Homo sapiens: one gene and its partner. The protein of the gene in region 1 interacts with the protein of each later gene in a pairwise test. Each region holds a gene or a part of one and is shown in the gene's direction. Other genes may lie near its edges.

Evidence for each region.
Region 2: the proteins of SLX4IP (region 1) and SLX4 interact in binary tests that used the Homo sapiens proteins (3 or more experiments, as listed by UniProt).

Annotation. Positions count from the first base shown.
Region 1 is NC_000020.11:10,435,775-10,447,820, forward strand, and holds part of SLX4IP (protein SLX4IP), read left to right. Parts: intron 1-12,046.
Region 2 is NC_000016.10:3,582,561-3,594,606, reverse strand, and holds part of SLX4 (structure-specific endonuclease subunit SLX4), read left to right. Parts: intron 1-7; coding exon 8-154; intron 155-1,741; coding exon 1,742-1,908; intron 1,909-3,296; coding exon 3,297-5,605; exon of another isoform or gene 5,606-6,337; intron 6,338-6,938; exon of another isoform or gene 6,939-7,671; intron 7,672-9,735; coding exon 9,736-9,838; intron 9,839-11,096; coding exon 11,097-11,510; intron 11,511-11,913; coding exon 11,914-12,046. UniProt on the Homo sapiens protein: Regulatory subunit that interacts with and increases the activity of different structure-specific endonucleases.

The DNA of each region.
Region 1 (12,046 bases):
AGACATTTTTGGAGATGTGAGGTAAATACAGATTGCGTTTGTATATACTTCCCATTCATTCATTTATTCATTGCATTTCTTGAGTACCTAATTTGTGCTAGGCCATAAGGATTCAGGAGTTAGCTAAAAAAAATCCATTAACTCATGGAGCCTACATTTTATCACCTTGACATCTACTAGGTTGAGACAAATAACAGTATTTTATGGTTCTTAGCACTGCTAGACTGTATAAACAAGTATTTGCTTTCTCCTTCCCCTGAACTATTTTTTTTTATTTTTAGTTTTTAATTTTTTTGGCCGGGTGTAGGAATTAATGGTATTGACACTTACTTCTTGGATCCTAGACATAACGATATTTGTAAGCCAGTTGGCTAGCGTTAAAACTAATATTCCAGTTACTTAGGGCCTTGTTGCTCCAAGTTCATTTCACCTACCACCAGCATCAGCATCCCTGGGAGCTTGTTAGAATTACACTTCATGACTCTCACCCCAGAGCTGCTGAATCAGAATCTTCCTCAAGAAGTGTACCTTAAAGTTCAAGGAACATTGATTCAGGGCATGGGCTAAAGATACAGCCCTTTCTTTCTTTCTTTTTTTTTTTAGATGGAGTCTCGCTCTGTTGCCCAGGTTGGAGTGCAGTGGCGCGATCTTGGCTCACTGCCATCTCCGCCCCCCGGGTTCAAGCAATTCTCCTGCCTCAGCGTTCCCAGTAGCTGGGATTACAGGCGCGCGCCACCACCCCCGGCTAATTTTTGTATTTTTAGTAGAGACAGGGTTCGCCATGTTGGCCGGGTTGTTCTCGAACTCCTGACCTCAGGTGATCCACCCGCCTTGGCCTCCAAAGTCCTGGGATCACAGGCCTGAGACATCACGCCCGGCCTGGCCCATTCTTTGTTCAACCCGTGCTTCTTAACTAGATTCACAGTGTATTATCAATTTATTGCATGTTCTAAATGCAATGGATATTTGACAGGTTTTTTTCTGTGCTTTTAGTTCATTGACTTGATGTTAGGGCGTCAATTTAGCTTTCCAAAAAGTTGAAAAGAGATTTTGTCATCCCAATATACTTATATGTAATTTCTGTTATAACATCTGAAATGTAGGGTTTTCTCTGTAAGTCTTAGCATCCAATTTACCACTGGTTTGCGTTTTTTTTTTAAAAGTTGTTTACTGTGCTTCTTGCTTTCTCATATCTTGTATGCATATTTGTACTTTTAATTTGTTAAAAGTTGAACTCAAAAGTTTGCATGTGGACAGCAGTTCAATACTGACTTGGAAAACCTTGGGCCTTGGTTTACCAAAGCTTTTTGTGGCACCTTGCTTTCTTCTGTCTTCCCATTTTATTTTACTTCTTTTATTTTTATTTTTTGAGACAGGGTATAACCCTGTTGCCCAGGCTGAAGTGCAGTGGTGGGATCATAGCTCACTGTAACCTCCAACTCTTGGGCTCAAGCGATCCTTCTGCCTTGGTCTGTCAAAGTGCAGGAAAGCAGGCATGAGCGACTGCACCCAGCTGCCTTCTGTCTTTCTTTAATGAGAAGACTAAATCAAGAGTTCTCAGCCTTGGCTGCACGTAACAATCACCTGGGAGCTTTAAAAACAGACTCCAGCCCTGTATCTGCAGAGATTGAGACCCTCTGGATGAAATTAAAGAGCCAGTAAGGAGTATGAGAAAACAGAAACAACTTTTACGTTTTATGTTGCTATGTTAGATTTTCTCTCCCTTATGGTGTTACTTAAAATAATCGGGATTTTGAAAACCATGAAAAGATCTGGATTAAGAATGTAAGGAACCAGCTTCCCAGTAACTGGTCAACTTGCCAATTATTTGCTCTGTGTCCTAAGAAAGTTGTCCAGCCTTTCTGCTTCTCCTCCCTCCATCTATTAATTGGGAAAAGAAAATAAAGCCACTGTTGTTTTTTATTTAGTTTCATGTGGTGTTGCCAATTGTAGTGAATGTTTATATTCTGTGAGTGTGAGAAAGAAAAGTATTTTACAAGTACAATATTCATTGCTTCTAGTATTAACATACCTCATATTGTGTGTGGCAGTAGAACATGATGGGTTAGGAAATTAACTCTAGAGCTAGACTCCCTGGGTTCAAATTCTAGCTCCTCTACTAATCAGCTTTGTGACCTTGATCAGATAACTTATCCCTTCACTACCTCAGTTTCCTCATCTGTAAGATAGGGTTGATGTGAACGTTAGATAAATTCATACAAGAAAAATGCTTGTCATAGTGCCCGGCACATAGTCACAGCCATGTAAATATTAATTAACTATTGTTAAATTTTATGATAATTAAATTTCTGGGCTTTAAGGTTTTGTTTATGCATGCAAATCACCAGGGGAAAGGTATTACAGTTCTGTGACTTTTCGGGATATGAACTTGTTTAGAAAAGAGGGTGATATAAACACAATATACCAGGCCTGGAAGAGGCCTTTTTTTTTTTTTCTGTAAGTACTTTTAAACAGCTTTATTGAGGTATAACTGTTATACAGTTAATGCACATATTAAAGTGTACAATTTGGTATGTTTATGCCAGTGAAACCATCACCTCATCAAGATAATGAAGGTATCCATCACCCCTAAAAGTTTCCTCTTGCCGCATTGTCATCCCTCCAGCCACTCCTCTTCCAGGAAACCTCTGATCTATCGCTGTAGATAAGTTTGCATTGCATTTCCTAGGTGTGTGTGTTTTTTTTTTTTTTTTTTTTTTTGAGATGAAGTCTCCCTCTGTCACCTGGACTAGAGAGCAATGGTGCGATCTTGGCTCACTGCAACCTCCGCCTCCTGAGTTCAAGCAATTCTCCTGCCTCAGCCTTCCAAGTAGCTGGGATTACAGGCTTCCTTCACCATGCCCAGCTAATTTTTCTTTGTATTTTTAGTAGAGATGGAGTTTCACCATGTTGATCAGGCTACCTGATCAAATGATCTGCCTACCTTGGCATCCCAAAGTGCTGGGATTACAGGAGTGAGCCACCATGCCCGGCCACATTTCCTAGGTTTTTATCTAACTGCAGTCTTGGAGTATGTGCTTTTTGGGGGGTACGGGTTAGTCTGGCTTCTTTCATCATCATCATAATCATTTTTTTTTTTTAATTTTTATTTTGTTTTAGAGAGGATCTTGCTGTGTTATACAGGCTGCTCTTGAATTCCTGGTCTCAAGCAATCCTGCCTCAGCCTCCCAAAGCACTGGTATTATAGGCATGAGCCACACACGCCTGGCCATCATAATTATTTTGAGAACCGTCTTTGTTGTTGGGAGTTTTGATAGTTTATTCCTTTTTAATTACTCAGCGGTATTCCATTGTGTAGATATATAATAATTTGTTTACATATTCACCAATTGATGGACATTTGGTTTGTTCTTATTTTTACAATCTCATTCTCACATTGCTTTGTTCTTCTCTAGCTTATTTTAATTAAAAACGTTTTTTTCTTTTTTCATTTTTTTGAGACTGGGTCCCACTCTCAGGCTGGAGTGCAGTGGTATGATCTCAGCTCGCTGCAGCCTCCACCTCCTGGGTTCAGGTGATTCTCGTGCCTCAGCCTCCCGAGTAGCTGGGACTACAGGTGCGCACCACTGTGCCTGGCTAATTTTTTGTATCTTTAGTAGAGTTGGGTTTTTACCATGTTACCCAGACCTGTCTCAAACTCCTGGACTCAGGCAGTCCTCCCACCTTGGCCTCTCAAAGTGCTGGGATTACAAGTGTGAGCCACGGGGGCTGGCCTAACAATTTTTTTAGAAGTTTAATTATTTGGTAATGAAGCCTTCTGTATACAGTGAAACCAAGAGGTGATAGTCATAAAGCATGTTTGTATTAAAACTTCACCTTTGCTGTTATGTAGTTTATGAATTAATGTTTTGTGAATGAAACATGGCTTTTTAAAAATGCAAAATGTGTGCATTGACTTTTAAGTGGATTGTTAGTTCTTGACATGTACATGTCTAATCACTTTAAGCTGTATTAAACCTCAAGTCTACTTTTTAGAGATTGAGGACAATAATTCATGCACATGAAGAAACCTATTTATTAGGTAGCAAAGTAGAGATCTATAAAGCCAACCCTATAATTTCATAAAACTCCCCTTTGTCAGGGAGATGGGGAGTACCACTTATATTTTGAGTTGATGTAAGTATATTTCTAAAGTCTTTTTGCTTCTATTATGTAAAAGCGGTTACTTGTGTTTATTTTAGTATTGACGTTTTGTGCTTGAATAAATCAGAGGTGGTTTAAAATTGGATTTGACTCATATTAATTATGGGATAATATATAGAATATGGCTATTACAATATCGTGGACATAGAAATTCATTTGTGTCACTTTTGATTTATCTTCTAGTTAGAAAAGATTGCATTTTTTTTTTATTTTTTGCATTTAAAAATTATTCCAGACCCAGTACGGTGGCTCACGCCTGTTATTCCAACACTTTGGGAGGCCGAGGCTGGCGGATCACTTGAGATCAGGAGTTTGAGACCAGCCTTGCCAACATGGTGAAACCCTGTCTCTACTAAAAATACAAAAATTAGCTGGGCATGGTGGTGCACACCTGTAATCCTAGCTACTTGGGAGGCTGAGGTGGGAGAGTTGCTTGAACCCACGAGGCAGAGGTTGCAGTGAGCCAAGATAGTGCAACTGCGCTTTAGCCTGGGTGACACAGTGAGACTCTGTCTCAAAAAAAACCTAGAAACTAAAAAATAAATAAATAAATATTATTTTTAATTTATGTAAAATAAAATTATTCTTGGGTATGTAGTTTTCAGAGTTTTAATCAGTGCATTGAGTGTTTTGTAACCACTATCGAAATCAGCACATGGAACAGTTCCATCAGCTCCTTCCTCCCCAACTTCCCTTCTGCCACCCCTTTGTAGTACTCCTTACCCCTTCACCTTTGGCAACCAGTGATCTGTTCTCCATCATAACAGTTTTTGCTTTGAAATGATTAGATTTTAAAACTATTTTATTAATGATTATCAGAACTTTTTTTTTCTATGTAAAGGTGACTGGAAAACATTAGTTATCAGAGTTCTTGGGTTACAAAGTGGATTGATCATGTGCTGTTTGCTTGTGCTCTTGTTGTTGGAATGATTCCGTTTAAGACACTGAGCATCCACTGTGTATCAGGCACTAGGCCCCATAATTACATATCTGATCTCATGTAATCCTTACAGGAGCCATGAAATAGAAACTGTTGTTATTATCCCATTTCAGAGGTAAGAAAACCAGAGACTTAAAGGAGTTGAATAGCCTGTCTCAGGTCATACGAAGAGTCAGAATTTGAAGGGATGTGTTTTACAAGAACCTAAGGACATGCATCAGGTGTGGGTGCCTATGTCTGTTTCTGACTAGGTATTAAATAAAAACTAGATTCAGGCCGGACATGGTGGGGTCACACCTGTAATCCCAGCACTTTGAGAGTCTGAGGCGAGTGGAGTGCTTGAGCTCAGGACTTAGAAAACAGCCTGGGCAATATGGCGAAACCTCATCTCTACAAAAAATACAAAAATTAGCTGGGCATGGTGGCTTACACCTGTAGTCCCAGCTACTCGGAAGGCTGAGGCAGGAGGATCACTTGAACCTGGGGAGGTTGAGGTTTCAGTGAGCCGTGATCACGCCACTGCACTGCAGCCCGGGCAACAGACCGAGACCCTGTCTCTAAACAACAACAACAACGAAAACCTACTAAATTTTGCCTATTAGTAAAGCATCCCATGCAGTGGCTGGTGGGGATTTTCTGTGGGCACAGCAGGAAGGGGAGGCTCAGATCATGGGTCAACTGACTAGGTTGAGAGTATAGAGTAACTAAAAGGTAGCACTGTTCCATGGAATTATTCTTGGTAGAGTATCAATGTTTGACTTACATTTAGTGACAAAGGATTTTTAAAAGTTCTAATTTTTTTGTTACTTGCATTATCCTCTTTCCAGTGTTGAATCTGACGTGTTTGTTTTTGTTTTTTTTTTTATAAGTAAACTTTGGCATTCAGAATTACCATCTGAATAATAGCAAAAACTAATTCTTTTTTACACTGAAGTTGCCTTTCAGCCTTTATCTGAGTGGTCACCAGTGAGGCCTTTGCTCATTTGTCATTTTTCCTTGGTCTTTTGTTAAGTTTGTGATTCATTCCTTGATATTGGTTGTTTTGGTGGTAAGATTGGTGCATGTGTTGGGAGAGGACAACAGTGAAATGATTTCTCATTCTTGAATTATAGCTGTAACTTCAGAAGTTCTAGGGCTTTGCCTTTGCTGTTTTCTGTTTCTGTTCCCATAACTAATGAAAGTTTTTTAAGATGATAGAAAGAAGCATAATAATTTCCTAGATAAAATTTGAAATCTGGAGATTAGAAACCTAAAGTTAATTTCTGGTCTATTTAATGAGAGCATTTGCTTGTGACACAGGCCAGCAACACTAGAAAGAAGACAAATGTGAATTTCAGAGTGCCTTAGATTTTCCCACAGAATAATCTAGAGGGTCATTGACTTTCTTTATTAGAGTTTATCTCTGCTTTGTATTTAAATGACAGGACAACCATGTGATATTGTTTAATCTACTTCCATTCCCTTCCCAAATTAATTTTTTAAAGCTCTTAGGATCTTTCTCACTCCACTAAAAACACACATGTAATCATATTTTTGGTAGGTCATACCCTATCAAAGTCTCCTCTTTGTTAAAGAATGCTTGTTTTCAGGCCTGAGAGAGTGGACTCAAGAATGCACAATAGAAGATGAGGCATCATTTGTAAGTTATAATATACTCTAACTTAGCATACTTATGTAAATTATATACTTTCAGATATTTGGAAAATTGATCTTTTTGGGTTGTCCTACACTTCTTAAAAACAGGCAACAAAATAAAAATGCCACTGAATTTAGACTTGAATTGCCAGCTCTGGTAGCAAAGGCTTTTTAACATTTATTCTGTAAACCTGGTCACTGAGCTTGTTGCATCCTGCTGAAAGCAACTTTGAGGGCCTAGGAAAATAATCATTGAAGATGCATTGTTGCTTTTTGTGTGCGTGTGTGCACACTTGCTTTTTAATGATCAGTAAAAAAAATTTAGAAAAGCCTCAGGATGTTCCTTGATTTAAAACTTAATTAAGATAGAAGCTAATAATATCTTTTCCATTTAAATGAATGTTAAAATGCCAGTATTTTAAAGACAAAGAAATTTATGCACCAAAAACATCATCTTTGTGGTATAAACTTCAACCACACCTCTAATCTGTTGCCCATTATTTTCAATATGAAACACTAGGATCTTCTGGGTATGTGTTTATATGAATTACAACTCTCAGCTTTGGCTGTATGATTATATATAACTGAAGTATTATTTATTTGGTGAAATAGGTCCAGAGTGCTTGACCTCTTTTTTGGAAGGCTTACTGTGGAATTTGGAATTTAGGGACAGTAAAGATACGTTGGATAAATAGGTATAAATCTAAAAAAAAACAAAAACAAAAACAAAAAACCACATTCTGATTTAGTAACATCAATGGACCCAAGTCAGCAAACTTTTAATGCATAACAGTGCCACACCCCAAATATTAAAGAGGAGATGAATGGACCCTGTCCCTGGGAATCTTATAGTCAGGGAGAGGACCAGAGTTAGTTATAATTCAGTGGGCTAAGCGTGAGAGTAGAGGTGGTTCAGGTGTGTCCCAGAGAAGGAGCAATTCACTTGGTTCATAGAAGGCTCCAAGAAACAGGTGGCATCTGAGTTGGGTCTCAGAGGATAACTCAACTCGCTTTAGGAGAGGACATTCCACAGTGCGGCATGCATGGGTGAAGGCAGGGAGAGCTGGAGCTGCATGTTCAAGGACATGTGCCAGGAGTTGGTTATGTGGTGGCATTACAGGTGTGAAGTTGCCTGTGCCATAAGATGGAGGTTTGGGCAGGGGCACTGATATTGTTCGGATTTGTGTTCCTGAGCAAATCTCATGTTGAATTGTAACCCCCAGTGTTGGAGGAGGGGCCTGGTTGAAGGTGATTGTTCATGGGGGCAGATTTCCCACTTGCTGTTCTCAGGATAGTGAGTTCTCTCAAGCTCTGGTTGTTTAAAAGTGTATAGTACCTCTCTCTTCTCTCTCTTCCTCCTGCTCCAGTCATGTAGGATGTGCCTGCCTCCTTTTGCCTTCCACCATGATTGTAAGTCTCCTGAGGCCTCCCCAGCCATGCTTCCTGTAGAGCCTGGAGAACTGCGAGCCAGTTAAACCACTTTTCTTTATAAATTACCCAGTCTCAGGTAGTTCTTTATAGCATTGCAAGAACAGACTAATACAAGCATTGACAAAAGGGCTTCTGATGCTGTGGGAAATCCCAGTGAAGAGTTTTGAATAGGGGACTTATGCTCAGATACCTCTAATGTTGGGTTTGGGGATGGGGAAGTACAAGGATAGAGATTAGAGGTACTTTAAGAGGCTGTAGTTGTAGGGGTCTGGAGCTGCTGGCATCACCATGTGTTTTAGTCTGCCTGTGCTGCCATAACAAAATACCTTAGACTGAGTAATTTATAAACAATAGGAATTTATTGCTCACAGTTCTGGAGAATGGGACGTTTAAGATCAAGGCACCAGCAGATTCACTGTCTGGTGAGGGGTTTCTTTCTTTCTTTTTTTTTGAGCTGGAGTCTCGCTCTGTCACCCAGGCTGGATTGCAGTGGCACAATCTCAGCTCACTGCAACCTCTGCCTCCCGGGTTCAAGTGATTCTCCTGCCTCAGCCTCCTGAGTAGCTGGGATTACAGGTGTGTGCCACCATGCTCAGCTAATTTTTGTATTTTTAGTAGAGGTGGGGTTTCACCATGTTGTTCACGCTGGTCTCGAACTCCTGACCTCGTGATCCGCCCGCCTCAGCCTCCCAAAGTGCTGGGATTACAGACATGAGCCACCGCGCCTGGCCTGGACTTGCTTTCTGCTTCGAAGATGATACCTTCTTGCTGTACCCTCACATAAGGTAGAGAGGCTGGGGAGCTTGTTTGAGCCTTTTTTAAAATAAGGGCACTGGTCCCATTCATGAGGATGGAGCCCTCATTATTTATCACTTTCCAAAGTCCCCACCGTTAATACTATTACACTGGGCATTAGGTTCCAACATATAAATTTGGGGGGATACCAACATGTAGACCATAGCACCATGTTGTGATTTTTCCTTCTCGTGGGAGGCGGATGGGCCCATCCATGACTGTCATCTGTTCCATCCCAGATAACAGGCTGTGTGCATGTAGTAAGGGAAGAGAACATGTGTTCCCCACAGATTCTCCGTCAATTCTTCTGTGTTTAGATATCACAACTAATTGGGTTTTGTAAAAGAATAGTGAGGGACATGCCCCTCAGCTCCCAGAGGATATACAAGTCTCATGGTTGGATGTTGCACAGTGGTTGTCAAGGCCTAAATAACAGAAGGGATGAGAAGCTCTCCTTCCACCCCCTACTGCCTTGCCAGACCTGCAGAGACTTTGTTGGGAGGCAGGGGCACCTTACTCTGGGGACCACCTCTCCCCATTTTTCTGTTGGATTGCTTTTTCTTTTTTCTTTCTTTTTTTTTTTTTTTTTTTTTGAGATGGAGTTTTGCTCTTGTTGCCCAGGCTGGAGTGCAATGGCGCGATCTTGGCTCACTGCAAACTCCACCTCCTAGGTTCAAGCAATTCTCCTGCCTCAGCCTCCCTAGTAGCTGGGATTACAGGTGTGCACCAAGACGCCTGGCTAATTTTTTTAATTTTTAGTAGAGATGGAGTTTCACCATGTTGGCCATGCTGGTCTTGAACTCCTGACCTCATGATCCGCCCGCCTCAGCCTCCCAAAGTGCTGGGATTACAGATGTGAGCCACCATGCCCAGCCGATGAGATTGCCCTTTTTTTTTTTTTTTGAGATGGAGTCTCACTCTGTCACTCAGGCTGGAGTGCAGTGGCGTGATCTCGGCTCACTGCAACCTCCGCCTCCTGAGTTCAAGCGATTCTCCCGCCTCGGCCTCCTGAGTAGCTGGGACTACAGGCACATGCCACTAAGCCCGGCTAATTTTTTGTATTTTTAGTAGAAACAGGGTTTCACCATGTTAGCCAGGCTGGTCTTGAACTCCTGACCTCAGGTGATCTGCCCTACTTGGCCTCTGAAACTGCTGGGATTACAGCCATGAGCCACTGTGCCTGGCTGAGATTGCTTTTTTTTTTTTTTTTTTTTTTTTAACTCAGCCTATTTCCTTAAAATCCATCCAAGTTGCATGTATCAATAGTTTATTCCCTCTGCCTGAGTAATATGCCAGGGTATAAAGGTACTGCAGTTTGTTTAACCATTCACACGTTGAAGGATGTCTGGGTTGTTTCCAGTTTGTGGCTGTTAAGAATAAAGTTACTATGATGGCCGGATGCGGTGGCTCATACCTGTAATCCCAGCACTTTGGGAGGCTGAGGTGGGTGGATCACAAGGTCAGGAGTTCAAGCCCAGCCTGGCCATGATGGTGAAACCCCGTCTCTATTAAAAACATAAAAATTAGCCAGGTGTGGTGGCAGGCACCTGTAATCCCAGCTACTTGGGAGGCTGAGGCAAGAGAATCACTTGAACTCGGAGGGCAGAGGTTGCAGTGAGCCGAAATTGGGCCACTGCACTACAGCCTGGGCAACAGAGTGCGACTCTGTCTCAAAAAAAAAAAAAAAAAAAAAGTTACTATGAACATTTTTGAACAAGTTTTTACGTGAGCCTAAGTTCTCATTTCTCTGGGATAAATTCTGAGGAGAGCAATTTTTGGGTTGTTTAGATTGATAAGAAACTTCCAGTCACTTTTCCTGAGTGGCTGTACCACTTTTACAGTCCCACCAGTGATATATGAGAGATCTATTTTCTCTGCACCCTCACCAGCATTTGGTGTTATTGTTTTTTATTTGTCTTTCTGGTAGATATGTAGTGATATCTCATTGTGGTTTTATTTTACATTTTCCCATGGCTAATGATGTTGAATATCTTTTCATATGCTTTTTTACCATCTGTATATCCTTCTTGGTGAGATATCTGTTTGTCATTTGCCCATTTTCTGATTGGACTGTTGCTTTTTACTATTGAATTTTGAGACTATGTATTCTAGATAGAAATCCTTTGTTAGATATGGATTGCAAATATTTTTCTCCCAGTTTTCTTAGAAAAGTTTTAATTTCAATATGGCCAAAGCTGTCATTCTTTTTCTTTATGGTTTACATTTTCTCTGTCTAGTTAAAAAACTCCTTTATGATTTTGAGTTCATAAAAATATCCTCTGAAAGGTTTTAGTTTCACACCTTTGAGTTTTTAACCCATCTGTAATTGATTTTTGAGTCTTGTATGAGATCGAGTCCAATTTAATTTTTTCTCAAATAGATATGAGCAGTTGTTTGACCACAGTTTATTGAATGAGTCATCTCTTCATTTCACACTAATTTCACAGTGCTGCTCCCAGCATGCATCAGTTTCATAAATGCATGCATTGGTTTCTGGTGTGTGGAGTCTGCCCCCTCTGCCTGTTTGTCTGCCCGTTTGCCAGTACGTTAGTTTTTTTACCTTGCATTGTAGCAGTTTTGCAAGCCCCATCTTTTGTTTTTTTCTTCCTTTTCTAGAAGTGTCTTGATCTTTTTTAGTCTTTCTCAGTTTCCCTGTTCAAGTTTGTGTTTGGAGTTGCATTAAATTAGTAGATCAGTCAGAGGATGTCTCGTATATATTTTTTTCATTTTATTCCTAGATACTTTTTATTTGTGGGATGCTAGTTTAAATGATATTTTAAGTTCTACATTTTCTACTTGTTGCAAAGAAGTTGTTTCTACTGGTTCATCATTAAGCATTTTGTTACATTTTTGTAGATGCTTTTTTTAGATTAAGAAATTCCTTTGTATTCATAGATTTCTAATGTTACCTTTTTATTTTTTTCTGCTTCTACTGAAATGTTTATGTGCCTTTTTTCTTCTTTAGTTTTTGTTTTTGTGTTTTGAGACAGGGTCTCTGTCACCCAGGCTGGAGTGCAGTGGCATAAACATGGCTCACTGCAGCCTTGAACTCCTGGGCTCAAGTGATCCTCCTGCCTCAGT
Region 2 (12,046 bases), on another chromosome or scaffold:
GCTTCAGCTCTCCCTCGGGCTGCTGGTTGCTGACTTTGGCGCCATGGTCAATAACCCACACCTGAGTGATGTCCAGTTTCAGACGGACAGCGGGGAGGTGCTTTACGCCCACAAGTTCGTGCTTTATGCCCGATGCCCGCTCCTCATCCAGTATGTAAGTACGTGGGCTGCCGTGTGCCCTCCTTTCCTCTCTCTCCCTCTCTCCTCCTGCCTTTCTCCAACCAGGTCTTCCCATGTCTCAGGTGCCCTTTCCACCCCCCCACTCTCCCTCACTTCCTGCCCCACCATGTTCTCACCTTCTCCCTCCCAACCATCCGTTTCTGCAACACGTGGAGAAGAGATAAAGACCCACGCTTGAGGTTAGGAGTGGGTGTGAGGGGATGGCCTCACAACTGGGAAACATCAGTGTTTTCGTTCTGTTGAATGAAAATCCATTGTTTGGCCGGGCGCGGTGGCTCACGCCTGTAATTCCAGCACTTTGGGAGGCCGAGGCGGGCAGATCACAAGGTCAGGAGATCAAGACCATCCTAACACAGTGAAACCAGTCTCTACTAAAAATACAAAAAAATTAGCCGGGCATGGTGGCGGGCGCCTGTAGTCCCAGCTACTCGGGAGGCTGAGGCAGGAGAATGGCATGAACCTGGGAGGCGGAGCTTCCAATGAGCTGAGATTGCACCACTGCACTCCAGCCTGGGCGACAGAGCAAGACTCTGTCTCAAAAACAAAACAAAACAAAAAGAAAATCCATTGTTTCCCAGAATTGTTTTCTCTTTTCTCTATTTGCATAATTACAAAGGCTCATAATTGATCTCCTCAGGGATGAGTTGCTGATGAACCTGCCTTCTGACTTGAAAGCATTTGACTTGAGTGTGGGCAGGAACTCAGGGAGCTATTCTCAGTCTTTGTCAAAGTTCTGGATCCCATATGTGTCTATCAGGAGGACTCTTAACGGGGTCCTGGAATATCTAGTCCCAATACGATTTGACAAAAGAGGAGTGTTAGGCCTCACCTGTAAAATTATTGGCCAAAAATCTGCATAAACAGTGGCTAATGCTTTTCCTGGGGCATGGAGCTGCTTTTAAGACTAGGGACCAGGCACGGCGGCTCATGCCTGAGATCCCCGTACTTTGGGAGACTAAGGTGGGAGGATCGCTTGAGGCCAGGAGTTCAAGACCAGCCTGAACAACACAGTGAGAGCCCATCTCTACAAAAAAATTTAAAAATTAGCCTAGGGGCTGGGCGCAGTGGCTCACGCCAGTAATCCCAGCACTTTGGGAGGCCGAGGAGGGTGGATCACCTGAGGTCAGGAGTTCCAAGACCAGCCTGGCCAACATAGTGAAACCTTATCTCTACTGAAACTATAAAAAATTAGCCGGGCATGGTGGTGGGCGGCTGCAATCCCAGCTACTCGGGAGGCTGAGGCAGGAGAATACGCTGGAACCGAGGAGGTGGAGGTTGCAGTGAGCCGAGATCTCACCACTGCACTCCAGCCTGGGCAACAGAGAGAGATTCCAACTCAAAATAATAAAATTAATTAAAATTTAAAATTAGCCTAGGAGTTCAAGGCTGCAGTAAGCCATGATCACACCACTGTACTCTAGCCTGGGTGACAAGGGGAGACACTGTCTCTAAAAAGAAAAATAAAAAGACTAGTGACTTGCAGGACACCCCAGACCGTCTGCTTTGCTCCAAGTTACAACTCTCTGATCAGTAAACCCTCTGTGTTGCATTTCACCTGCAGGTGAACAATGAAGGCTTCTCCGCTGTAGAGGACGGGGTTCTGACCCAGCGTGTCCTGCTGGGTGACGTGAGCACCGAGGCCGCCCGCACGTTCCTGCACTATCTCTACACTGCGGACACTGGCCTTCCTCCTGGCCTTAGCTCTGAGCTGAGCTCCCTGGCCCACAGGTCTGGATTGCTCCCCAGCTTTTGAAATTAACTGACGAGGACTGGCAGGTTAACAGCTCTGGAGGGTTGTGCTGCAGAGGGCTCGGGGCTGAGGCCAAGAGAACTAACAGTCCTGTTTATACCTTTTAATCCCAAGTCCATGACCAGTGATGACCCTGTGGAACAGGGCATGTTAGGTGAAAGTCAGGCCAGAACAGACCCTTGCAGGGGTGCCAAGCACTGGATCAGGAGGACTCTATTGAGTCCCGTGGTTTTTAACCCCCTAGGTGTGATAAGAGAATGGCCCTTGGCTACAGCGCCCCCCAACACTGCTGCTCAGTGATTGTTCCACCACTAGACCTGAACAACAGCAGTCCTTTCCAGAGTCCCATAAAACAGGCATGGAGAGAATGCTTAGGCTGCATCCCAGATGCCACAGCTCTCCTGGCTTGTCCAGCCAGCATCTTAGGAGAGAGGCAGCAGCTCAGAGGGACAAGTGTTGTGCCTCTGGACAGGGCCTGGGCCGCTGATCCGAGCCTGCGTCCTCCCTCCGCTGCTTTCTTAGGAAAGGAACAGCTCAGCCTCTGGAGTTGGAAATATACTGACGGGCCACAGAGCCTTCAAGCAGGTGGCTGGCTGGCTTGCCCGTTGGCCTGGGCTGACTCAAGGACTTGGTGTGCTGTGGATTGTGTCTGATGCCATGTCTTTTCATTTATTTTTTATTTTTTGGAGAGACGGAGTGTCGCTGTGTTGCCCAGGCTGTTCTTGAACTCCTGACCTCAAGCAATCCTCCTGCCTCCGCCTCCCAAAGTGCTGGGATTATGGGCATGAGCCACCATGCATGACCTTTTTTATCCTTTTAGAGACAGAGTCTCTTGCTGTTGCCCAGGCTGGATGGCAGTGGCATGATCACAGCTCACTGTAGCCTTGAACTCCTAGGCTAATTTTTACATTTTTTTGTAGAGATGGAGACTTTCTATGTTGTCCAGGCTGATCTCAAACTCCCGGCCTTGAGTGATCCTCGGCTTCCCAAAGTGCTGGAATTTCAGGCATGAGCCACAATGCCTGGCTCTGACACCATATCTTAAGAGCCTCTGAGGCAGCACAGACTCCCCAGTTTTGTAGCTCTGCCAATCCCTGTTACCTTACATTCAGTCCGACACACCCCTTTATGTCTGCAGCTATAGTTAGGAAGCCCTGCTTTAAGTGTTGTCAGTCCCCGGTTTCTGGAACTAAGTGGCCTGGGTGTTTCTGGCAAGGAGTGTGGACACCGTCTTCAAAGGGAAGCAGGGCCTGGGTCATGGTCATTCCTCCTGGTGAAGACTCTGCTCTGGTCCGCCACCCCACCGGGGCACCCAGAGCCCATCTCCACGCAGAGGGGCGATGACTGTCGATGTTTCGTGTTGCAGGTTTGGCGTGAGTGAGCTCGTTCACCTGTGCGAACAGGTGCCTATTGCCACTGACTCAGAGGGCAAACCATGGGAGGAGAAGGAAGCAGAGAATTGCGAAAGCAGGGCCGAGAATTTCCAGGAACTCTTGAGGTCAATGTGGGCAGATGAAGAGGAGGAAGCGGAGACTTTGTTGAAATCCAAGGACCACGAAGAAGATCAAGAAAACGTGAATGAAGCAGAAATGGAAGAAATTTATGAATTTGCAGCTACTCAGCGAAAGCTTCTCCAGGAAGAAAGGGCAGCGGGTGCCGGCGAGGACGCTGACTGGCTGGAGGGTGGCAGTCCGGTTTCTGGGCAACTCCTAGCAGGTGTCCAGGTGCAGAAACAGTGGGACAAGGTGGAGGAGATGGAGCCGTTGGAGCCAGGAAGAGATGAGGCCGCCACCACCTGGGAGAAGATGGGACAGTGCGCTCTCCCGCCACCCCAGGGCCAGCACTCAGGGGCACGGGGAGCAGAGGCCCCTGAGCAGGAGGCGCCAGAGGAGGCGCTTGGCCATTCCAGCTGCTCCAGCCCTTCCAGGGACTGCCAGGCAGAGAGAAAAGAAGGCTCTCTTCCGCACTCAGATGATGCCGGGGATTACGAACAGCTCTTCTCATCAACTCAGGGAGAGATCTCAGAGCCGTCCCAAATAACAAGTGAGCCCGAGGAACAAAGTGGCGCTGTCAGGGAAAGGGGGCTGGAGGTTTCTCATCGCCTGGCTCCCTGGCAGGCATCTCCACCGCACCCGTGCCGCTTCCTATTGGGGCCTCCCCAGGGCGGGAGTCCCCGCGGGTCTCATCACACAAGTGGGTCGTCCCTGTCAACACCCCGGTCCCGTGGCGGAACTTCCCAGGTGGGCTCCCCAACCTTGCTGTCTCCAGCTGTGCCATCAAAGCAGAAAAGGGACAGGAGCATCCTCACGCTGTCTAAAGAGCCAGGGCACCAGAAAGGCAAAGAGCGTCGGTCCGTGCTGGAGTGCAGAAATAAGGGGGTCCTGATGTTCCCAGAAAAATCTCCGTCTATTGACCTAACCCAGTCAAATCCTGACCATTCGAGCTCCAGATCTCAGAAATCTTCATCCAAACTGAACGAAGAAGATGAGGTCATCCTCTTACTGGACTCGGATGAGGAGCTGGAGCTAGAACAAACCAAAATGAAGTCCATTTCTAGTGATCCTCTGGAAGAAAAGAAAGCTCTAGAAATTAGCCCTAGGTCCTGTGAGCTGTTTTCCATCATTGATGTTGATGCAGATCAGGAACCTTCCCAGAGCCCACCAAGAAGCGAAGCTGTGCTGCAGCAGGAGGATGAGGGGGCGCTGCCGGAGAATCGGGGCTCTTTGGGCAGGAGAGGGGCTCCCTGGCTGTTCTGTGACCGTGAGAGCAGCCCCAGCGAGGCCAGCACCACAGACACCTCGTGGCTGGTGCCCGCCACCCCGCTGGCCAGCAGAAGCCGTGACTGTTCTTCCCAGACCCAAATCAGCAGCCTCAGGAGCGGGCTGGCCGTGCAGGCGGTGACTCAGCACACGCCCAGGGCCTCAGTAGGAAACAGGGAAGGGAACGAAGTCGCACAGAAGTTTTCTGTCATCAGGCCCCAGACACCACCGCCCCAGACACCGTCCTCATGCCTCACTCCCGTCTCTCCAGGAACTTCTGACGGCAGAAGGCAAGGCCACAGAAGCCCTTCCCGTCCCCACCCCGGGGGCCACCCGCACTCCTCTCCGCTGGCTCCACATCCCATCTCAGGGGACCGCGCCCACTTCAGCAGGCGGTTCCTGAAACACTCGCCGCCTGGGCCAAGCTTCCTGAACCAGACCCCAGCGGGTGAAGTGGTGGAAGTCGGAGACAGTGACGATGAGCAGGAGGTGGCCTCCCATCAGGCCAACAGAAGCCCCCCACTGGACAGTGACCCCCCAATTCCAATTGACGACTGCTGCTGGCACATGGAGCCCCTCTCGCCAATTCCCATTGACCACTGGAACCTGGAGCGGACCGGCCCCCTGAGCACCAGCAGCCCCAGCCGCAGGATGAACGAGGCCGCCGACAGCCGTGACTGTCGCTCCCCGGGACTCCTGGACACCACCCCCATCCGAGGAAGCTGCACTACCCAGAGGAAATTGCAAGAGAAGTCCTCGGGCGCGGGCTCCCTGGGGAATAGCAGGCCGAGCTTTCTGAATTCGGCTCTGTGGGACGTTTGGGACGGGGAAGAGCAGAGGCCTCCAGAGACCCCTCCTCCGGCCCAGATGCCAAGCGCTGGTGGAGCTCAGAAGCCCGAAGGGTTAGAGACACCCAGTGAGTAGCCAGGAGAGCTGGGGAAGGGGACTGTCTTTGTTACTATTTTACACTAAGAGGGTGGGAAGATCAGTCATGAGACCCAGGGGCTGCCCTCTGAATGCCTGCTGACCTGAGGCATGACACTTCCGCTGCCTTCCAGACTCCCCTCCACAGTGGAGGAGAGCCGGGCTGGTTCTCATGCTACACTTCTCAGCCAGTAAGTCAGTGTTTCCCAAACTTGCCTGGCTCCAGTGCTCACCTGGGCATGTGTTAAAAATCCACATCTGTGGACCCTTCTCCAGAACACGGAGCCGGCACCTCCAAAGGCCACAACTCATTCAGCAAGTATCGGCATGCCTTAAGATTGGACCAGGGTGGTTCTCCAGAATGTTAACCGTAGATTGACTGCAGGACCCAGCAATTCCACTTTTACCTGTATATCCAAAAGAATTAAAAACAGGGACTCAGACATGCATGTTCATAGAAGCGCTGTTCACAATCGCCAAAAGCTGGAAGCAACCCAAATGCCCGTCAGGAGATGAACAGGGAAACCAAACGTGGTCCATCTAGACCACTAGAAAATGGAATAGTGTTCAGCCACAAAGAGGAGTGAGGCACTGCCACACGCTACCGCGTGGACGACCCAGAAAACATGCTGCCGGGTGAGAGAAGCCAGACATAGAAGGTCATGTACTGTCTGCACTCATGGATATGAAATGTCTAGAATAGGCAAATCCAGAGAAAATGCAGGTTAGTGGTTGGCCTGGGTTGGAGGGAGGGGGAATGGGGAGTGACTGCTTATGGGATACAGGGTGTCCTTTTGGGGTGGTGAAAATGTTTTGCAAATAGATAGAGGTGATGGTTGTACAACATTGTGAATACTTAATGCCACTGAATTATTCCCTTTACGATTTTTTTATGTGAATTTCACCTCAATTAAAAAAAGAATCAGGTGGGACAAGTGTGAGAGGCTGTTAGGCCTGTTCTTCCTGGTCCTCCCAGGTGCAGGGATGCCACCTCCCTGCTCATTTCAGTCCCCGGGGAGAGTCAGAGCCCCAGGTGTCGGCCCCCTCGGTGCTGCTGCTCCCATCCAGGCACCTCCGGGGAGGGCAAGGACAGGCCGGGCTGGGCTGAGCATGACTGGGAGAAAGGCCAGGCTGTGAGTGAGCACCTGCCTGCGGCCTGGGGGCCCATTTCCTCCCAAAATCCAGATGAATGAGGCCACTGATAGTGTCCTCGGCCCTCAGGGGCTTCAGAAACACCTGGAGAGCTTCTTATAGCACGCCCGTGGCCCAGCCTGCCCCAGAGCCTTGCTTCGGGAGGGTGACTAAGAATTTGCATTTCTAACCAGTTCCCAGGCAGTGCTGTGAGAACAGCTGCAGGAGGCTGCACAGCAGATCTGAGGTGGGCTTCAGGACGACGCTGCGGCCACAGGAAGAATCGTGCTTTTCTCAGGAGACAGAGCCTGCCGCTTTCATCGGGGGCTCAAAGGGCTCCATGGTCATAAAAGGCAGAAGAACCAAAGTCTGACTGTTTCCAATGTGTCACCAGGCTGGAGTGCAGTGGGGCTATCTCGGCTCACTGCAACCTCCACCTCTCGGGTTCAAGGGATTCTCCTGCCTCAGCCTCCCGAGTAGCTGGGATTACAGGCACCCAGCACCACGCCCAGCTAATTTTTGTATTTTTAGTAGAGTCGGGTTTCACCATGTTGATCAGGCTGGTCTTGAGCTGCTGACCTCAGGTGATCCGCCCACCTCGGCCTCCCAAAGTGCTGGGATTACAGGCGTGAGCCACCTCGCCCAGCCTATTATTTTTTAAAGTAACAGCTTTATTTAGATATAATTCACATACCATAATATCCACCCTTTTAAAATGGACAGTTCAGTGCTTCTCAGTACATTCACAGTGTTGTACAATTGTCCCCACTCTCTAATTCTAGAACATTTTCATCATCTCAAAAATCCTGTACCCATGAGCAGTCTCTCACCTTCCCCTTCCCCCAGCCCTGGCAACCAAGAACCTTTCTGTCTCTATGGATTTGCCTGTCCTGGACATTTCATATAAACAGAGCCATATATAACTAATATGTGGCCTTTTGTGTCTGTGTCTGGCTTCTTTCAGTTAGCATACAGTTTTCAAGATTCATACATGTTGTAGCATGGATCAGTATTTTATTCCTTTTTATTCTTTTTTTTTTTTTTTGAGACGGAGCCTCTCTCTGTTGCCCAGGCTAGAGTGCAGTGGCACGATCTCGGCTCACTGCAACCTCCACCTCCTGGGTCCAAGCGATTCTCCCGCCTCAGCCTCCCGAGTAGCTGGGATTACAAGCGCCCATCGCCATGCCATGCCCGGCTAATTTTTTTGTATTTTTAGTACAGATGGGGTTTCACCATGTTGGCCAAGCTGGTCTCGAACTCCTAACCTCAAGTGATCCACCCACTTTGGTCTCCCACAGTGCTGGGATTACAAGCCTGAGCCACTGTGCCTGGCCTGTTTTTGAGTCAGGGGTCTTGCTCTGTCACCCAGGCTGAAGTGCAGTGGCGCAATTACAGCTCATTGTAGCCTCGACCTCCCAGGCTCAAGTGATCCTCCCACCTCAACCTCCTGAGTAGCTGGGACTACAGGCAGCTGCCACCATGCCCAGCTAATTTTTTTTTTTTAGTAGAGACTGGGTCTTGCTATGTTGCCCTGGCTTTGGGCATACATTCCTTTGTATGTCTAATACCCCACTGATGGTATGCCACATTTTGCTTATCCATTCATCTACTAGTGGACACACGGGTTGTTTTTAATTTGTGGTTATTAATAATGCCACTTAGGAATATTGATGTGCAAGTTTTCGTGTAGACATGTTTTCCTTCTTCTTGGTTCTGTACTTAGGAGTGGAATTGCTGGGTCATATGGCAACTGTGTTTAGCATTGTGAGGAACTGCGAGACTGTTTTCCAAAGTGACTGCACCATTTTAAATCTCCACCAACACTTGTTATTCTGTTTTTGTTGTTGTTGTTATTGTTTTGAGACAAGGTCTTGCTCTGTCGCCCAGGCTGGAGTGCAGTGGCGTGTTCATGGCTTGCTGCAGCCTCAACCTTCCTGGCTCAGGTGATCCTCCCACCTCAGCCTCCCGAGTAGCTGGAACCAGCCACAAACAGCTGCCCACATTGGTGACTTGGGCCACCACACCCTGCTAACTTTTTTTGTATTTTTTTTTTTTTTTTTTTGTAGAGATAGGGTTCTGCCATTTTGCCCAAACCCTCTGTGTTTTTTGTTATGGCCATCCTAGTGGGCGTGCAGTGGTATCTCACTGTGGTTTTGACTTGCATTTCCCTGATGACTAATGATGTCGGGCACCTTTTCATGTGCTTATTGGCCATTTGTAGATCTTCTCTGGAGAAATGTCTGTTCACATCCTTTGCCCTTTTTTTTTTTTTTTTTTGAGACAGAGTCTTGCTCTGTCGCCCAGGCTGGAGTGCAGTGGTGTGATCTCGGCTCACTGCAAGCTCCGCCTCCCAGGTTCACGCCATTCTCCTGCCTCAGCCTCCCAAGCAGCTGGGACTACAGGCGCCCGCCACCACGCCCAGCTAATTTTTTGTATTTTTAATAGAGACGGGGTTTCACCGTGTTAGCCAGGATGGTCTCGATCTCCTGACCTCGTGATCCGCCCACCTCGGCCTCCCAAAGTGCTGGGATTACAGGCGTGAGCCACCGCGCCCGGCCCCTTTGCCCATTTTTTAACTGGGTTTTTTTAAATTGATGAATTATTTTTAAAAAGCAAAACTGATGTCTAAGCCTGTTTGAAGAGTATCAGTGTGGCCCATTGTCTCAAGTTGTCACTGTGGGTCAGATATTTTTAAGTTTACATGCATAAGTTTTAGTCACGTGCCGGGCTGTTGGGTTCAGTGGCCCCAGGAGCTCTGTTCACCCGGCACCCGTGTTATACAAGGTGTGGTCCTCAGTGCGTGTCACCGATGCTATCATTGGGAAGCCCCTGCTCCAGACAGGGAAGGGGTGACCACTGTTGCTTTCATGGAGCAAAACGATGCTTGGGTTATCTTCAAGTGCATTATTCCTCTTGGTCACGCTACTGGGATCAGATGTGGGAAATCCGTGTCCCTCATGCTAAAACGTGTGCTTCTTTTGTTTTACCCAGAAGGTGCTAATCGGAAGAAGAACTTGCCCCCCAAAGTGCCCATAACGCCGATGCCACAGTATTCCATTATGGAGACGCCGGTGCTGAAGAAGGAACTGGATAGGTTGGCGGTCTTCAAAGCTTGTTGCCCACAGTGGTCTTTTCCCTCCCATAAGTAACTGGGTTTCACACACCTGGGGGCGGAAGGGCCCCCCGTGTGGTCTCTGGGTCTGGTGGATGCAGCTGGCCTGGGCTTGGGAAGAAAGGTCTGCAGTCAGCTCCTTAGGGAGCATGTGTGACTGCTGGGTGCCGGGGTGAGCCTCCCAGTTCTCTCTGCGTACCATTCCCCAGGGAGGCAACACACAGGATTCGTGCATGTCACCCCTGGGCAGCAGGTCCCCATATTCCATGTAGATGGAAATGGCCCCCTAGCCAGAGCAGTCTGAGTGAGGAGGTCTGATTTTTTTTTTGAAAGACAGAGTCTTGCTCTGTCGCCCAGGCTGGAGTGCAGTGGCGCAGTCCCGGCTCACTGCAACCTCCACCTCCCGGGTTCAAGCGATTCTCCTGACTCAGCCTCCCGAGTAGCTGGGACTACAGGCACACGCCACCACACCAGGCTAATTGTTGTATTTTTAGTAGAGACGGGGTTTCACCATGTTGGCCAGGCTGGTCTCGAACTCCTGACCACGTGATCCACCCGCCTCGGCTTCCCAAAATGCTGGGATTACAGGCGTGAGCCACTGTGCCCGGCGGAGGCCTGATTTTTTTTAAAAGAACATTTAACTCTCACATCCACATGACACTGCTCTTCCACTCGGGCACCCGGGGAAGCTGCTGCTGCCACCATCCCTCAGAACTGGGAGCAGCATATCTTTTGTTTATTTTTTATTTTTGGAGACAGGATCTCACTCTGTTGCCCAGGCTGGAGTAGAGTGATGTGATCTTGGCTCACTGTAGCCTCAGCCTCCCGGGCTTAAGCGATCCTACCTCATCCTCCCTAGTAGCTGGGACTACAGGTGACACCACCACGCCTGGCTAATTTTTGTATTTTTTGTAGAGGCGGGGTCTTGCTATGTTGCCCAGGCTGGCCTTGAACTCCTGAGCTCAAACTGTCCTCCTGCCTCAGCCTCCCAAAGTGCTGGGATTGTAGGCGTGAGCCATTGTGCCTGGCTGGCAATGTTTCTTTTGGAATATTCAGAGTAAGCTTAGTTGGCGCCTAGAATAGACACTAACCTCTGATGCTCACAGAAGTCAGGCATCTATGGTTTGTCACACAAGCCATTCGCTGAATGCATTGGGTATCACTCTTTGCTAAGATAGGGAACGTGGAGTGTGGACCAGCTGTGTGGGTGGGTCCTGAGATCCACCTGTTCCTCCGTCAGGTTTGGAGTCCGCCCTCTGCCTAAACGCCAGATGGTTCTGAAGCTGAAGGAGATATTCCAGTACACTCACCAGACCCTGGACTCAGACTCCGAGGACGAGAGCCAGTCCTCACAGCCGCTGTTGCAGGCGCCTCACTGCCAGACCCTCGCCTCCCAGACCTACAAGCCTTCAAGGGCAGGGGTCCATGCCCAGCAGGAGGCCACCACAGGACCTGGGGCCCATAGGCCCAAGGGACCTGCTAAGACCAAGGGCCCCCGACATCAAAGGAAGCATCATGAAAGCATCACACCCCCAAGCAGGTCGCCCACCAAGGAGGCACCTCCAGGCCTCAATGATGACGCCCAGATCCCAGCCTCTCAAGAATCCGTGGCCACCTCTGTGGATGGCAGTGACAGCTCCTTGAGCTCACAGAGGTAACCGGATGGATGCGATGGGGTCAGTGGCCTCATGTATCCTCTGGCCCGTGGGCGTGAGGGTTGGCACGAGTGAGACCTAATGGCCAATCTTCAAAAACCCCCGTCACCTTCTGGGTTTGACCTGTGGGAAAACCAGGTGGGTTTAGGGGGCTGGTTCCCTGACCCCAGCCCTGCGCAGGCCTCCTGGTTCCTGCCCCACATGCTAGACATTTCTGGCTGGGGCAGGATCCCGCTGGCGTAGCCTGCAGGGATCTCTCAGGCCCGTCCTGCCTTGCTGGGGATCGTGCCACAGGCCAGGCTCCATGGGACCCGTAGACACCTTCCTTCCTTTAAAGAGGCTCATGGTCTCAGGGGCTGGAGAGAAAGGGGTTGCACAACGTCCTGGTCTGGCTCTTTTCAGTTCTTCCTCCTGTGAGTTTGGAGCGGCATTTGAGTCTGCAGGTGAAGAGGAGGGCGAGGGGGAGGTCAGTGCCTCGCAGGCAGCCGTGCAGGCGGCGGACACAGACGAGGCGCTGAGGTGCTACATCCGCTCC